2 linked regions of the Homo sapiens genome follow. The protein of the gene in region 2 interacts with the protein of the main gene of each other region in a biochemical or structural test. Each region holds a gene or a part of one and is shown on either strand. Other genes may lie near its edges. The genes, in order: PASK and KCNH2.

Region 1 (3,804 bases), on a different chromosome or scaffold from region 2:
CCTGCTCTGGCAGAGTCTGGAAAGCCCATTCCTTCTGCTCAGGTGTCTGTGGGCTGAGGAAAACGACCTGCTGGGCTCAGCAGTGGTCTGTGCAGCTGGGCCCTCTGCTGACACTGGCAAGGGGAGGCTCTGGGAAAGGCATCTCTGGTCCTCTTCAAAGGCTGTTAAGCCCCCGTCCTCCATGGGAAGAAGGGAGGCCAACTGCCAAGCTTCCAACTCTAACAACTAGAAAACAACATGAAGCTGATTAACATCTGCAATGCAAAAACACAAAGACAGTTTAACCAACTAATTTATAATGCTGAGTTCAGCTCGGCCCCAAAAGACATACACCACCAACCGCCATCCTGGGTCAGAACCCGCAATGGGAGAATGGTCCACCCAAAGTGGTGCTAAAAGAAGCTCTTTCCGGGCCAGGCACGGTGGCGCACGCCTGTCATCCCAGCACTTTGGGAGGCTGAGGAGGGCGGATCACGAGGTCAGGAGATCGAGGAGATCGAGACCATCCTGACTAACACTGTGAAACTCCGTCTCCACTAAAAATACAAAAAATTAGCCGGGCATGGTGGCGGGTGCCTGTAGTCCCAGCTACTCGGGAGGCTGAGGCAGAAGAATGGTGTGAACCCGGGAGGCAGAGCTTGCAGTGAGCCGAGATCACACCACTGCACTCCAGCCTGGGCGATAGAGAGAGACTCCATGTCAAAAAAAAAGAAAAAAAAAAAGAAGCTCTTTCCAAGAAAAATACATAGGAAGATATGGGAAAGAGGGAAGGAGAGAGAGAGGAAAACAAAGAACAGGGTGGGAAGGAGCCATGAGGGAAGGCAGGGACTGCAGGTACACACCAACTGAAAATACTCCCAGGTCATGATGAACCCATCAGCACGTGGGGGCTGCACAGCTCCCATGGTCTCAGCTTTCCCCTAAACAGTGAGTCCTGACCATCCGACCAGCTGTGCACAGAATCACCTGGGTGCTGCCAACAAGTGAGGTCGCGGGGGCCATGGCCAAGAGGCCATGTCTCCTAGAGACAGGCCTGGCACCAGAGATTTGTATTTTTAGCTTTTCTCTTATACATGATTCAAATGCTGATACAGGGTGGAAATACAGGAAAATCTCACATACTCTTCCGAGTTCCCTCTCATGGTGACATCTTACAGGAGAGTGTCACAGCCAGGAAACTGACTTGATACCATCCATCAGCCTCGTCCAGATTTCAAGGCATTTACCTGCAGGTGTGTGTGTGTGTGGGTGTGCGTGTGTGTCCGTGCGTGTGTGTGCGTGTGCACATGTGTACATGAGCGTGTGTGTGTGCGCGCATGTGAGCACGTGTTCCATGCAGTCTTGTCACATGTATACATTCATGTGACCACCCTGCAGAGTGGAGATACTTAAGAGTTCCATCCTGCATATTGGCAAGCACTTGAAACACAAGTACACATTTACCAATACCCTGTCCTCATGGCCAAACTCAACAAAAAGAGCCCTTAAAGCAAGAAGATTTCCTCTACTGGCAGGAAGCCCCCACCTGGTCATCCAGGCTTTAGATAAACAGCAAGAGGAGGCTGTGGCCAATACCAGAACCATGGCTGGAGTTTCCCCCACGAAATGAGGAGACCCTGGGGCCAAGGCAAGCCCAACCACACCCCATATACCCTCTTCTGGACCACCTTCTGGGTATCCAGAACCCCAGAGTTCCCAGCCAAAGGGTCTGGTGCCCACTTCTAAGACACACACAGGCCTCTTTCCACCCAGGTCCTCCCACACTGGCACACCTATAGCCGTGAACTGGCTGAGGAGCAGCCTTCCAGGAATAGCGAGCTTGGACAAGCTAGCAGGATGCCCACACGAGGCCCTTCCAAGACAAGGCAGGCCTGGGGTGAAGAGGAAAGGGGAGGTGGCCCTCCCAACACCACCTCTTCCAATATGGAACTCCAAGGAGTCCCCCCTCCTTGCCTTATCCTAGCATCTGGTGGCTACTGGCCATACTGGCCATCTTTGGTGTTCTTGACCTGCAGCTGCGTCACTCCAGTCTCCGCCTTCGCCATCACAGAGCTTCTCCCTGTTTGTTTGTTTCTTTTTTTTGAGACAGAGTCTCGCTGTGTCGCCCAGGGTGGAGTGCAGTGGCGCGACTTCGGCTCACTGCAACCTCCGCCTCCCGGGTTCACGCCATTCTCCTGCCTCAGCCTCCCGAGTAGCTGGGACTACAGGCAGCCGCCACCACGCCTGGCTAATTTTTGGTATTTTTAGTAGAGTCAGGGTTTCACCGTGTTAGCCAAGATGGTCTCGATCTCCTGACCTCGTGATCCACCTGCTGCGGCCTCCCAAACTGCTGGGATTACAGGCGTGAGCCACCGCGCCCGGCCGACTTCTCCCTGTTTGTATGTATCTTCACATGGCCATCTTTTTTTTTAACTAGGAGATGAGGTCTCACTATGGTGCCCAGGGCATAAAAGATCTGATCTGTGGAAGTCAAAACACTAAACTTTTTAGCCAGGCAGGTCTCGTGGCCTGCACCTATAGTCCGAGCCACTCTAGAAGCTAAGGCAGGATAATTGCTTGAGCCCAGGGAGATGGAGGCCAGCCTAGGCAACAAAGCGAGACCTGTCAAACCAAATAAAATATAAAATAAAATCACTAAGTTTTTAGGAGAAAAGAGGCTATCTGTAAGACTTTGGGGTAGGGAAAGTTTTCTTAAACAAGGCACAAAAAACTCTAGCTATAAAATAAGATTAATAAGTTTAACGTTAAAATTGAGAACACATCACACCTGTAATCCCAGCACTTTGGGAGGCCGAGGCAAGCAGATCACGAGGTCAAGAGATCAAGACCATCCTGACCAATGTGGTGAAACCCCATCTCTACTAAAAAAAAAAAAATTAGCTGAGCATGGTGGCACACACCTGTATTCCCAGCTACTCTGGAGGCAGAGGCAGGAGAATCGCTTGAACCTGGGAGGTGGAGGTTGTAATGAGCCGAGATGACACCACTGCCCTCCAGCCTGGCGACACAACCTGGCAGGTGGAGGTTGCAATGAGCTGAGATCACGCCACTGCACTCCAGCCTGGCGACACAGCGAGACTCCGTCCCCCCCAAAAAAAAGAAAAAAAAAAATGAGAACACAGCTTCACAAAGAATACCATAAAGAAAACGAAAGAACAAGCCACAATTTGGGAGAAGATATTTGCCACATACATAACCAACAGAAAATTAATATCCAGAATAGCTTTAAAAGATCAACTATTTAAAATTTAAACATTTTTAAAAGACACATGGCCCAATAAAAAATGTCAAGAAATAGGAACAAGCGTTTTACAGGAGAGGAAATCCTAATCATGATGATGTTATACCTACTAAGTCAGCAGAAATGAAGAATCTAGTAATACCCAATGTCAAAAAGGATTTGGATCAACAGGAACTCTTAATACATTAATATAATCTCTTTAGAAAACAATTCAAGTGAAACATTTGTCTATATGGATACAGCACTTTTCACTTAGATTTATATTTCAGAGAAATTTTTGCAAACAGATAAGAAGACACCAGAATGTTCGGGACAATATGGTTCTCAATGGCAAAGAGACAGGCAGAAAAAAGGGAGGGAAGAAAGGGAGGGAGTGCGGGAGAGAGGGAGGAAAAAAGGAAATGAAACCCAAACACTCTTTAACAAGAAGATAGATTTTAAATTCTGGTATATTCATACCACTAATTACAGCAGTGAAAACAAATAAACTACACACAAGGGTGAATCTTAGCCATATACGAGTGGAAAAAATCAAGTTACGGAAGACAATCAGCAGGAGGATT
Region 2 (3,904 bases):
TCCTACGTGCAAAGCTGGGCTGCAGCAGGGCACCCTGAGATAGGCCCAGGCCATCAGGACTTGGCCTCCTCCCACCTTTCTCGATTCTCCCTTCCCCTGGCCCCCAGAAAGTTGCCTTTTGGAACTGGTTCATCTTTTGGCCAGTTCCCAAGGCCCCCCAGACCTCCCAGGCAGCCATCAATTCCAGGAGTCAGGGTTTCCTGTCACCTGAAAAGACCCCCTAACTCGGCCTCCAGCTCTGCCACAGTCCAAGGCAGTCCAGAGGCCCAGCCACACACCCCAGCTTCATAGAAGAAAAACCACCCCTTGTCCTCTCTCCCAGGCTGGGGAAAGAAGAGCAAGTTTCTTCGAAGGCATGCCCCACCCCACCACACACCCTTCACTGAGATCCTGGAATACAGGGATGGGACAGAAAGCCTGCCCCTCCTCCACAGACCTGGAACCTGAGACCCAAAGAGGGAAGAGTCACTCAAGGTCACATGGCAGTCAGTGGCAAAGGTAGGGCTAGAATCCAGCACCCCCCCCCACATCCATCCCAGCCTCCTCGTAGGCCCGCCCACAGCCTCCCCCTGGGCCCACCCCCACCTCTCAGGGAGGCCCTCAACCAGTGTCATTGTCTCCACCCCCTCAGGATCATCTTGTTCCTCCGCTTCACACAATACTGACCATCGGACTGACCCCTCCTTCCCCCAACCACCGTTACAAGCACGCGTTGTCCTGTGCTCACAGGGTCATGGACAAGGAATGTCATCCTCTCCCAACTCCCAGGGCCCTTGGCAGTCACACCCACTGTGGCTCATGCAGCCTTAGGGACAGGCACATGAATGCTGCCCACCCCCAGGACATTTGCCTAATCTGGGACCCTTCTAGAAGCCTCCCTACCAGGCAGGCATTAGGGGTGCTGTACTCCCGGTCCCCATAAGGGAATTAGGTGACAGTCTCCAGGGCAAGAAAACCCACAACTTGGGGGTACCACAGGGAGCTGCTTACCCTCAAAGCCCAGCTCTAGCCCCAGGACACCCTGTCTCCACAGAGCCCACAAGCTCGCAGCCTTGTCAAAGACACCTCCCCACCGCCCATACAGGGTCTAACTCACGGGTGACACATGGGCTCAGGGTTATATACACACGGCACACACAAGAAGAGATTATGAGCTGACCCTGCATCCACGGCTTTTCAGTCCCTCCGGCACAACACAGTCAAGATCTGGCAAGACCAGTGTGCGCGCTGGACTCTCGGGATCCCAGGGTTTGGGTCGTACACACTCTTATGCCCTTGCACACAGCCCCATCCACGTCCACGCACCCAGAGTTGGGGACACCTGCACACTCCATCCCACATCCCTTCCCTGCACACTCAGCGTGTCACACACACTCCGATCCCAAAAGCCTGAGCTGAGTTTCCCGCCCCAAGCCCCAACCCCAAACCCTTTGGCCCGGTGCCCACGGCCCCGGTGCACCAAGCCTTGCCCCCGCCGTCCCCTCGCCAAAGCCTGGGGCCCACCAGGCCCCATTGACTCGCACTTGCCGACGCACACGGCCCGGGCACGCCCCCCCATCCACACTCGGAAGAGCTCGGCCCGCCCCCAGAGCCCCCTCCCCGCTCAGCCCCCTCCCCCACTCACTCTGGCCCTCAAACTTGCGGATGATGGTGTCCAGGAAGGTGTTCTGCGGCGCGACGTGGCCCCTCCGCACCGGCATCCTGAGCCCATGGGCGGGCCGGGCGGGCCCCCACCCACCCCGGCCCGGCCCGGCCCAGCACTAGGCTTCGGGTGGCCCGGCCGGGCCGTGGTCCCCGCACCCCGCGGCCAAGCCGAGCACGGGCGCGGCCAAGACTGGACTGCGGGCGCCGGGTCCTCGCTCGGCTCCCGGCTCCCCGCTCCGGACCCCGGGCCCGGCCTGGAGCCGCCTGAGCGCGAGCCGCCCGCCGCCGGCACACCTGTCTGCCGGCCCCCGCCGAGCCGCGGGGCCCGCTCCGCCGCGTCCCCGCGCTGCGCTCCGCCCGCCCGAGCCCCGGACTCCTGGCTCCCGCCTGCCACCGCGCCGACAGCCGCTCCAGCGCCCGCGGCTCGGGCAGCGCCTGCGGCTCGGCCCGGCCGCGGAAGGGTTAATGCGGCGCGCGCCCCTCCGGCTCCGGCCCCCGCCTCCCGGCCCCCTCCCGCCTGCCGCGCGCCCGCAGCACCGCCCTCTCCCCCCCCCATCCCGCCCCACCGCGCGCGCCCGACCTTCCCATTGGCTGAGCCGCGCCGAGTGCTCCCCCAACGCCAGCCCCTCGCTCTGCCAAGGAGCCCCTGGGACTCGCGCGCCCAGAAGAGGGGGAAGGGACCCTTAGGCAGGGGAAACCGTGAGGACAGGTGCCATGGCCGGCTTGTAGGCGGCCGGGATGGGGGAAGGGATTCCACCCCCACCCCAGATTAGCGACTAAGAAACCTGATTTGAAGGGAAACGGCGGGTCCTTATGCCCTGGTTCCCCACCACGCCGAGCACTGGCTTGGTATACACAGCACGCGCTCAGTGCCTACTGTGGGTGACCGGGGCAACGCCTGGACCCTCGAAGACGAGCCCGGAGTCAAGGGAGACCCTGGAAATAGGAAAAGCAAGACAATCTGAAGGCCCCAGAGCAGCAGAGCTCTGAAATAAGGGAGGGTTAAACTTAGAAGGGGCACGCCCCCTGCCCCAACACACACACACACACACACACACACACACACACACACATACACACACACACACACACACACACACACACACACATACACACACACACACGGAGAGAGAGAGAGCCCTCTGTGGGGCTCTGCATAGGAGCTGCACAGAGAGGGACATTCTGACAGCAGTTGCGGCCTCCTAGCTGCAGGATCAAAGAGAGGTCCCTGAGCGCGAGGTTCCAACCAGGGGATCCCCGGGTGCGAGCGGCCCGCCCTCCCCCGGCAGCCCGGGGCCAGCCTTGCACGCCCAATCGGCGGGCTCGGGGCCCTGCGGCGGCGGCCACGGCCCAGCCCCTCGGAAAGCCCTGGCCTAGCCGCAGGCCCCTCCCCCCGGCCAGCTGGCTCGCTCCAGCTGCGGCTCCCTTATTTAGGCAAGGAGGCCTAGGGATGCTCAAGGGCAGGCGGGGTGTCTGCCCCGCCGCCTGCTCATCGCCTGCTTGCGTCTGAGTGAGGGTCTCCGGGCGCGGTGTCCTCGGACTTAGCAGTCAGGCAGGGCCCCGGGAAGGCCAGGGCGGGGAGGCGAGTGTTGACAGCTGAGTGGGCGGGCGGGGAGGGAGGAGTCGCAGCTGAACAGCCGAGGGTCCCCTCCCTGCAGCCGGATCAGAGACCTGTCTAGATGGATGGGGCCATGTGGGGGCTCCTGAGGGCTTGCAGCTGCCTCTGTCCTTGGAGCAGGGGCTGGGTCTTGTCACCAGCGAGAACCATCATGGGGGGAGGGGAAGAACAAAGGGCAGGGAAGGAATCGGAGTCCCGAAGGAGGAAGGCGCAGAAAACTGTCGTCGTGAGACCACCCTACCCGGACTCTCACCTTCCACCCAGGAGCACAAAGATGCAAACACTGGGGCCAAATGGGGCCACTGGCCAGCAGATGACACTCTTTTTTATTTGCTGGTGGGTGGGCAGTGACTCAGGGAGGCAGCCAGTGGGAGAGAAGGAGGTGGCTCCACAGCTGATGCTAAAAAAGTCCAGAGGCTCTTGCCTGTGCAGTTATTCCTCAGGCCCTCTCCACTGCCAGCAGTTTCCTCACTCACCCCCCCGGGGGCCCAGGGCCTTCCACAGCACAAGCTCCTCCTTGGTGTAGCATTTGGCATCAGGTGCATCAACACATCTGGGTTCCGGGTAGAACCTAGTCCACGACTGGCCCAGCCCCCGCCACGCCCCAAGGCCACCCCTGGCTGCTGGGTTGCCTACCATGAA

The links.
Region 1: of the proteins of KCNH2 (region 2) and PASK, one has a biochemical effect on the other in vitro, tested with the Homo sapiens proteins (one study listed by IntAct).

The regions. Positions count from the first base shown.
Region 1 is NC_000002.12:241,142,850-241,146,653, forward strand, and holds part of PASK (PAS domain-containing serine/threonine-protein kinase), read right to left. Parts: intron 226-3,804; coding exon of another isoform or gene 184-225; coding exon 1-183. UniProt on the Homo sapiens protein: Serine/threonine-protein kinase involved in energy homeostasis and protein translation. Phosphorylates EEF1A1, GYS1, PDX1 and RPS6.
Region 2 is NC_000007.14:150,976,214-150,980,117, forward strand, and holds the start of KCNH2 (voltage-gated inwardly rectifying potassium channel KCNH2), read right to left. Parts: upstream 2,109-3,904; 5' UTR 1,701-2,108; coding exon 1,625-1,700; intron 1,143-1,624; exon of another isoform or gene 632-1,142; intron 546-631; exon of another isoform or gene 531-545; coding exon of another isoform or gene 377-530; exon of another isoform or gene 323-376; intron 1-322.